2 linked regions of the Homo sapiens genome follow. The protein of the gene in region 2 interacts with the protein of the main gene of each other region in a pairwise test. Each region holds a gene or a part of one and is shown on either strand. Other genes may lie near its edges. The genes, in order: CEP152 and MOV10.

What was found.
Region 1: the proteins of MOV10 (region 2) and CEP152 interact in binary tests that used the Homo sapiens proteins (3 or more experiments, as listed by UniProt).

Annotation. Positions count from the first base shown.
Region 1 is NC_000015.10:48,741,174-48,745,090, reverse strand, and holds part of CEP152 (centrosomal protein of 152 kDa), read left to right. Parts: intron 1-98; coding exon 99-195; intron 196-747; coding exon 748-851; intron 852-2,990; coding exon 2,991-3,144; intron 3,145-3,386; coding exon 3,387-3,490; intron 3,491-3,917. UniProt on the Homo sapiens protein: Necessary for centrosome duplication; the function also seems to involve CEP63, CDK5RAP2 and WDR62 through a stepwise assembled complex at the centrosome that recruits CDK2 required for centriole duplication.
Region 2 is NC_000001.11:112,691,386-112,695,302, reverse strand, and holds part of MOV10 (helicase MOV-10), read right to left. Parts: intron 3,639-3,917; coding exon 3,504-3,638; intron 2,543-3,503; coding exon 2,374-2,542; intron 1,286-2,373; coding exon 1,131-1,285; intron 851-1,130; coding exon 674-850; intron 555-673; coding exon 407-554; intron 1-406.

The sequences.
Region 1 (3,917 bases), on a different chromosome or scaffold from region 2:
CACAGTCTCTTCTATAAACATTTGTATTGGGAACTTAAGGGAAAAGAAGGCTTAAAAAATTTTTAACTGTCTAATATACTATAAACTTTCTGTTATAGAAGAGAATAATAAAGTTGTTGAAGAATTAATAGAAGAAAACAACGACATGAAGAATAAATTGGAAGAATTGCAAACACTTTGTAAAACACCACCAAGGTATACTTTTACTATTTTAAAGTGCTATTTTAAAGAAATCTAAGTACAAGTATCTTTAAATTTTTTTAAGTATCAATTTTTTTTGTTATACAGCAAAAAGTATAAAAAAGAAGAAAATCCCCCAAAACCTTATTTCCTGAAGATACCCTCTAGTGACCTCTTGTTTTATATCATTTAAGCCTCTTTCTACACATACTCCACATGCACAATGTGTTTTTAAAATTGAGGCTATAGTATAAGGTATTTTATAACTTTTTATTAATATTACTAGATAAGCATTTCTCCATGTTATTAGATATTCTCCTACATATGTTTTTCAATACCTGCATAAATTTTCATGTGGATTTACTGTTATTTATTGAAGCAACCATAACATTTATGTTGTTTCCATTTTTCCCCTATTTTAAATAACTGTATAGTGGAGATTGTTCTAGATGAGATTTTTAGCACTTCTCAGTTAACTTTATTAGAGTATATGGATACATATATATTTTTCAAATGAAATTTTTCACTTACCATTTCTGTTTTTGTAATCTTTGGTTTGTTTTTTAGGTCATTGTCAGCAGGGGCCATTGAAAATGCTTGCCTGCCATGCAGTGGGGGAGCCTTGGAAGAACTTCGTGGGCAGTACATTAAAGCTGTAAAAAAAATTAAATGTAAGTTTAATTCTGAAGATTTTAAGGATGGCTTGGGCCTTTTTTATTATCACTGTTAAAGTAAACTCAGAGTTTACCAGCAGTAGTTCTTCTAGGGAATTTTCCAAATTACCTTTTTCTTCAATCTTAAAAGAGATTATTGATACCTTTTCAAAATTATGTAGTCATTGATCATTTTTCCCAAATAATATCTTTTGGAAGTGATGTGAGAATCGTCTTATGTTTATATTGTTGATTTTCTTGTTTCTTTTTGGACACTAGTATTAAACTGAAAAGTTAATAATCTTACAACTTAACTAATTTGTAGTAAAGAAAATGTCACATGGGTTTTAAATGAGCAATTAACTATTACTTCCTACCATAAACTTTTTTTTTTTGAGACGGAATCTCACTCTGTCAACCAGGCTGGAATGCAGTGGTGCAGTCTCGGCTCACTGCAACCTCCGCCTCCTGGATTCAAGCAATTCTCCAGCCTCAGCCTCCTGAGTAGCTGGGATTACAGACATGCATCACCACACCCAGCTAATTTTTGTATTTTTAGTAGAGACAGGGTTTCACCGTGTTGGCCAGGCTGATCTCGAACTCCTGACCTCAGGTGATCCACCCGCTTCGGCCTCGCAAAGTGCTGGGATTACGGGCGTGAGCCACTGTGCCCGGCCTCCTACCATAAACTTTTAAGGACTGTAGAAGTGGATCTAGTTAGCAATTGTTCTGTTGTTTCTGGTTATTATTTCTCATAGCTATAAATTTATCAAGTCCTTGTCAGTACCAGGTTGTGCCAGCATATCCTGTAGAGCATTCTCCTGATGTGTGTTTTCCCTGTTTTGAATACTTCTTGGTTTCTAATTCTAATATGCATAGAATGGATATATGTCCCAAAACAATAAGTAGTGTTTATATAGGAAAAATGTATATTAACTTCCTAAAATTACATTTCTTTTTAACAAAAAGAGCAGGAAAAGTCTGAAGTTTCAAATATAATTGGTAGATTCAGAATCACGTGTAGATGTTCTACAAAGCTCATTCGGTATTTATAAGGGAATTTGCTTCTCCGTTGTTACTGGTGCTAATAAAGGGCATATTGCTACAAGCAACGCAACTTTTTGTTAATAATGTATTAATTGGGAAGTGGAATTTTAAGCATGTTTTCATCCTAATGTGATAACTTGTATGTATGTGTGTATATTATGTTTTAGTTATTTTTTAGAAAGTTGGTTGGAGGTTTTGTTTTGACATGTACTGCATTTCATTTTCCATTTCAAATAATGAAAAACAGTCTCCCAGTTAGTATTTTTGCATAGAACCACTAATTTTCAGATGCTTACTGACATTAACAGGAAGATTCCTGTATGAATTGGTATCCTTAATATAACAGAGATGGTGAAATTCTAGATGTAGGATGTAGTCTTGGATTTATTAAAAAAAAAAATAAAAGTTAGCCTTAGCTAATAGTAGTCCTAATCAAAGATATATTGAGTTAAAAAAAAAAACTTGAAAGCTGTGGGCTATGTTTATATGTAAATTTCAGAGGCCAACTATAAGTCCCATCACCCTCCTTGTAGTCTCATTTTGTACATATCTCTTATGAATTGTAATATTATATTTAGTTAGATGCTCAAAAAGTGCTGCTGAAAGAATTTTCAATAAATAATGGAACGTAAATTTTCAGAGCACTAGAGAAGAATGAGTCTCTCCAGCTCATACTGCCTCCTTTTCTTCTGTCTTTGTGTTTGCTTTTTCCTTTCTTTCTGCTTAACCTTTTCTCTATATTTTATTTTTCTCTTTTCCTAACTGGACATAATGTACAATTGAAATACTAAGTTTCTGTACCTCATATTTACAGTATTTTCTTCGCTAAGTGTTTTAGAATATGACAAAATTTAGCTGGGGAATATGCCATGTTTCCTTACTATATGTAGCTGTCATCATTCCGAAAGAACTTATAGAGTACTTCTCATTTGAGTCTACCAAAATGATGATCTAAAATATTCCATTTTAATGACTGTGGAAAGTATAATGTTTAAACTATACTTAAAATCACTTCATCTACCAGAAAATTGATCTGAAGTCTGCCCCTCCTGTTTCTGAAAAAGTGCTAATAAACATACATTCTGTGGGCATTTTCTCACTTCCCTATAGGTGACATGCTTCGTTATATTCAGGAGAGTAAGGAACGAGCTGCAGAAATGGTAAAAGCAGAGGTACTGCGAGAACGTCAAGAAACCGCCCGAAAGATGCGCAAATATTATTTGATTTGCCTCCAACAGATTTTGCAGGATGATGGAAAAGAAGGGTGAGTTCAGTCTGAACAATGTGTCCTGAGATTACCAGGACAACATGTTATCATTTTTAAAGCATTTTCCTTAACCACTAAATTAACTATTTCTACATGATCAGCCATAGGGGGTTAAGAGAGGTTTATGGCTGTGCTACCCTAAATGTTGGCAGAGCCAATAGGAAAACAGAAACCATGGGGCTAAGGCAACTCATTTTTTCCTTTAAACTATATTTTTAATATTCTGGAATTCCCCACAGGGCTGAGAAAAAGATTATGAATGCTGCTAGCAAACTTGCTACAATGGCAAAATTACTGGAAACACCTATTTCTAGTAAGTCCCAAAGCAAAACTACACAGTCAGGTATGTCAAAGTGAGTCGCCAAATGGTTTTTCTATCTTTTCTTCTTTAGCTATTTAATATTTTCAGTATGAAGAAGGCAGGGAAGGTAAGGAGTGAGAGTTAATTTGTGAAGTTTTGTATGTTTTACTTAAACTAGAAGTTTACGCAAAAAGAGTACACAGTTTCCAATTTAAGTAGGCAGACTGAGCATGCCCATCAGTTTCCTATTGCTGCTTCCATCCCTCGAAATGATAGAAAAGATTTTAAACAGCAAATAAAGAATGAGAAAAAGAAGAAATTATAAGTGGGTTTTAAAAAGTTGCAGTGGGCCAGGCATCATGGCTCACACCTGTAATCCCAGCACTTTGGGAGGCTGAGGTGGGAGGATCCCTTGATCCCAGGAATTTGAGGTTGCAGTAAGCTATGATTGTGCCACTGTACTCCAGCC
Region 2 (3,917 bases):
ATGCAGTGCCCTACCCGTACAACAGTGCTCCACAGCCACATTTACCCTAACTTCCCACTTCCCCAATCCCCACCCTTTTTTTTGAGACAGAGTCTCACTCTGTCACCCAGGATGGAGTGCAGTGGCACAATCGCACTGCAGCCTCAAGTGCCCAGCTATTTTTCATATTTTTCATAGAGATAGGGTCTTGCAATATTGTCCAGGCTGGTCTTGAACTCCTTGGGCTAGTCTTCCCCAAGTGCTGAGATTACAGGCATGAGCCACTGCACCCGGCCCCTACCTCTCTTTCTGATGGCTGCTTAGAAGCAGGAGCATTTCGGGAGTGGGAAGGAACTAGAATCTGGGGACAACTGCTTGGTGCTGGGGGAATCAGAGTGCAGGCCCCAGGTTTGTGCTCAGACCCCACCTGCTTAATTGCCTCCACTAACGTGACAGTCTTGCCGGTGCCTGGAGGCCCAAAGATGATGTAGGGGGCTGGACGGGTGGTGCCCGTAACAATGTGCCTCATGGCCTGCAGCTGCTCTGGGTTTGACTCCAGACTCCGGTCGTACAGCCTGGCAGAGGGACCAGGAATGTGAACTTGAAGTCATCCAGTGACCCAGAGGCCTCCCTGACTCCACCCCCTGTGCCCACACTCCAAGTGGCTCCAGAAGCTCCCTGCCCACAGTCTCACTTGAGTTTCACATCTGAGGGCAGCAGCGGGACGTCCCGAGGTGCCACAGGAAAGAGCATGGGCCACAGCAGCCAGCGCCCTGTCAGCTCCAGGGCACGGTGCTGGACTCGCAGCGGCTGGCGGTTGAAGGTAAAGTTCACCTTGAAGGTCAGCCCATCCACAAAGCGGCTCAGGAGGCTTTGGGCAGAGAGAGGTGGTAAGAGTTTGTTGGGGCAGGGGAGGTGGGCAATAAAGGGCCAGAACTTTCTCCACCAACCAGTGTCCCAACCCCTCTTTCCAAGACCTCTATGCAAGTTCTCTAGAAGAGGAAGCTGCCGTAGCATCTCAGGGTACCCCTGAGGAAAAGTCTCCTGCTCTGCCCCGGGGTCTCATTTATCTCAGGGAGAAACACTCCTCCTCCCCTGGGGTCAGAAGTCTGTAGACCCTTCCAGCAGCTCAGGGTTCCCCCAACACCCACCTCATGGAAAAGCTCAGCTTGACACGGTCCAATTCCACCTTGTGCACAAAGCCCTTATATGTGATGGGGTCCTCCTGGTGTGTCTCCGAGGACAAAAGGGCAAACAGGTGGTCGCCCCGTAGCACTGAGGGGCGGCTCTCAGTCACTCCAGGAACCTATGGGGTGTGAACACAAGCAAGCTTCTGTCCCAGGGATGGACGCTGGAGGGCCCAGCCCCCAGGTTCCCCAGACCTTTAAGGGACAAGGACTGAGACTGGCCTTCTAACCTAAGACTCAGGGAGTTATGCTATCCCTGCACCCCTCTTTCCTTTCATACCAGCAGGAGTCAGGGGAAGAGGAAGAAGACAAATCCTCCGAAGCTGCCCAGAGATGCCGAGCCCAGGAACCCGGAGCCTCCAGTGCAGCTGCCCTCTTGGCCAGCTCAGTTCCTGCTCTGCCTATAAAAATCCTGTTCATCAGTTAATCGGGTTGCTAAAAAAATAATTAAAAAAAAAAAAAAAAAAAAACGGACCAGGCATGGTGGCTCACGCCTGTAATCCCAGCACTTTGGGAGACTGAGGCAGGCGGATCACTTGAGTCCAGGTGTTGCGAGACCAGCCTGGCCAATGTGGCAAAACCCCATCTCTACAAAAAATACAAAAATTAGCCAGGCGTAGTGGGGCATGTCTGTGGTCCCAGCTACTTGGGAGGATCACTTGAGCCCGGGCGGCGGGGATTAAAGCGAGCCAAGATCATGCCATTGCACTCCAGCCTGAGCACCAGGGTGAGACCCTGTCTCAAAACAAAAACAACAACAACAAAAAACTTGTTCAAAACTCACTTCCTGCAGTAATCTTTCCTTGAACAAACTCACCCTCTAATTCCCACCTGCAATTGTGTGTAGAAATCCATTCTCGTGTGTAATTTTGGGCTTATATGCACACATTGAAAATCCAAGAGCCAGAAAGAGCTCTAAGAATTATCCAGTCCAGCTCTGTGCTTTTCAGATAAGGGAACTAAGGCTTAGAGAAAGCCAGGGACTTACCCAAGGTGGTAGCAAAGCCTGGACTAGAACCCAGATCTTCCCCATTTCCCTGCTCCAACACATCTTTGGGCACAGGATGCCCACCCTGCTTCTTGCGGAGCCCTGGGAACCACTTCAACTTTCCTCTTGTTCTGCCCTGCTGTCAGGAATAGTTCTGCCCACAGCCTCTAGCTTGGCTGGCTTGAGCCCACCCTCCTCACACTCAATCTGAGCCCTGACCTCCAGCGTGAGCAGCCTGGGGTTCTGGTCCACAGGGTCCCAGGTCATGGGCACCGACTCCAGGTCATAGTGCCGGATATCATGCTCCATCTGCAGTTCCTCCAGGTGCAGCAGCAGCCGCAGCTTCACCTCATAGTTCCTCCACTTCAGGGCTGTCTCCAGCTGGGCCCTGGAAATGATGGTTGGGAGGGGTGAGTGGGGGCAGGAACAGGATGGGCCAGACAACCCCTATGCCCAGGAGTATCCACCTTCTCCCACCTGAAGCTCTGGAACTAGCGTCAAAAAGCAGAGAAGACTAGAGGGATACAGAAGTGGATGAGAGTCAGAGGCCCTGAAGAAGGAAGCCTTGGCTCCTGCTTCCTTGGATGCCCCTGCCCCCACCTCACCCGACTTGCATTTGCATGGTGGCTCTTATGGCCAGAACATTCTCCTCCAATCCTCTCATGACTCCCACCCTCACCTCATTCAAATGTCCTTCTCTGTTCAAACATCACTACCTCAAACAGGCCAGGACTAACTGGCCTTCTGCAAAGCAGCACCAACCCATTCCCTAACCCTGCTTTAGTTTCAGTATAGTTCTGTTCATCTTTTTTAGAGACAAGATCTTGCTCTGTCACCCATGCTGGAGTGCAGTGGCATGATCTGGGCTCACTCACTGTGTCCTCAACCTCCTGGGCTCAAGAAATTCTCCCACCTCTGCCTCACAAGTAGCTGGGACTACAGACATGTGCCACCACACTTGGCTAATTAAAATTTTTTTTTGTAGAGACAGAATCTCACTATGTTGCCCCAGGCTGGTCTTGAACTCTTGGGCTTAAATGATCCACCTGCCTCGGCCTCCCAAAGTGCTGAGATTACAGGCATGAGCCACTTACACCTGACCTGTTTAGTTCTTCACAGCACTCATCACTCCATGAAATTGTAACAAAAATGCTCATTGTCCCCCATTAAAATGAGCCAGGCCTTCATTTGACTGGTTCACCTTGAATGGTGCTTGGTGTATGGTGCGTGCTCAGTAAGGGAATGAATGAATACAGCCTGGGAGGCTGAGGACGGAGGTGCCAGGGCAATGCAAAGAAGCCAGTAGGTAAAAGACGGGAGAGTGCGGGGTGCAGAGGGATGGTACTTACTTGATCTCTGCGATCTCCTTAGGGGCAGTGAAGATACTTGTTCCCTGAAGAAGCATGGGGAGCAGCTGCCTGAGGCGGGGAGGTGGGTAGTATGTCCCCAGCGCCATACTTAACTCCAGGTCATAGCCCTTAGCGCTGCAGAATCGAGGGAAGAAAACACAGAAAACCCCTCACCCTCCAACACTCTGAGAACGCCCCTCTGGGGTGGATGCACAAAGCCCTCCTGCAATCCTACTGCTGAAGGGAAGTCAGCAGCCTCGCTCCAAGGGTGGACTACTCTCATTTTTGGAACATGCGATACTTGGAAACCTTTAAAACTATTATCTAAGTAATAAATGATCACTAGAGAAAAAAATCAGGTAATAGGTAATAAGTAAATATCATTCTTACCATCCAGGAATAACCAATGTTAAC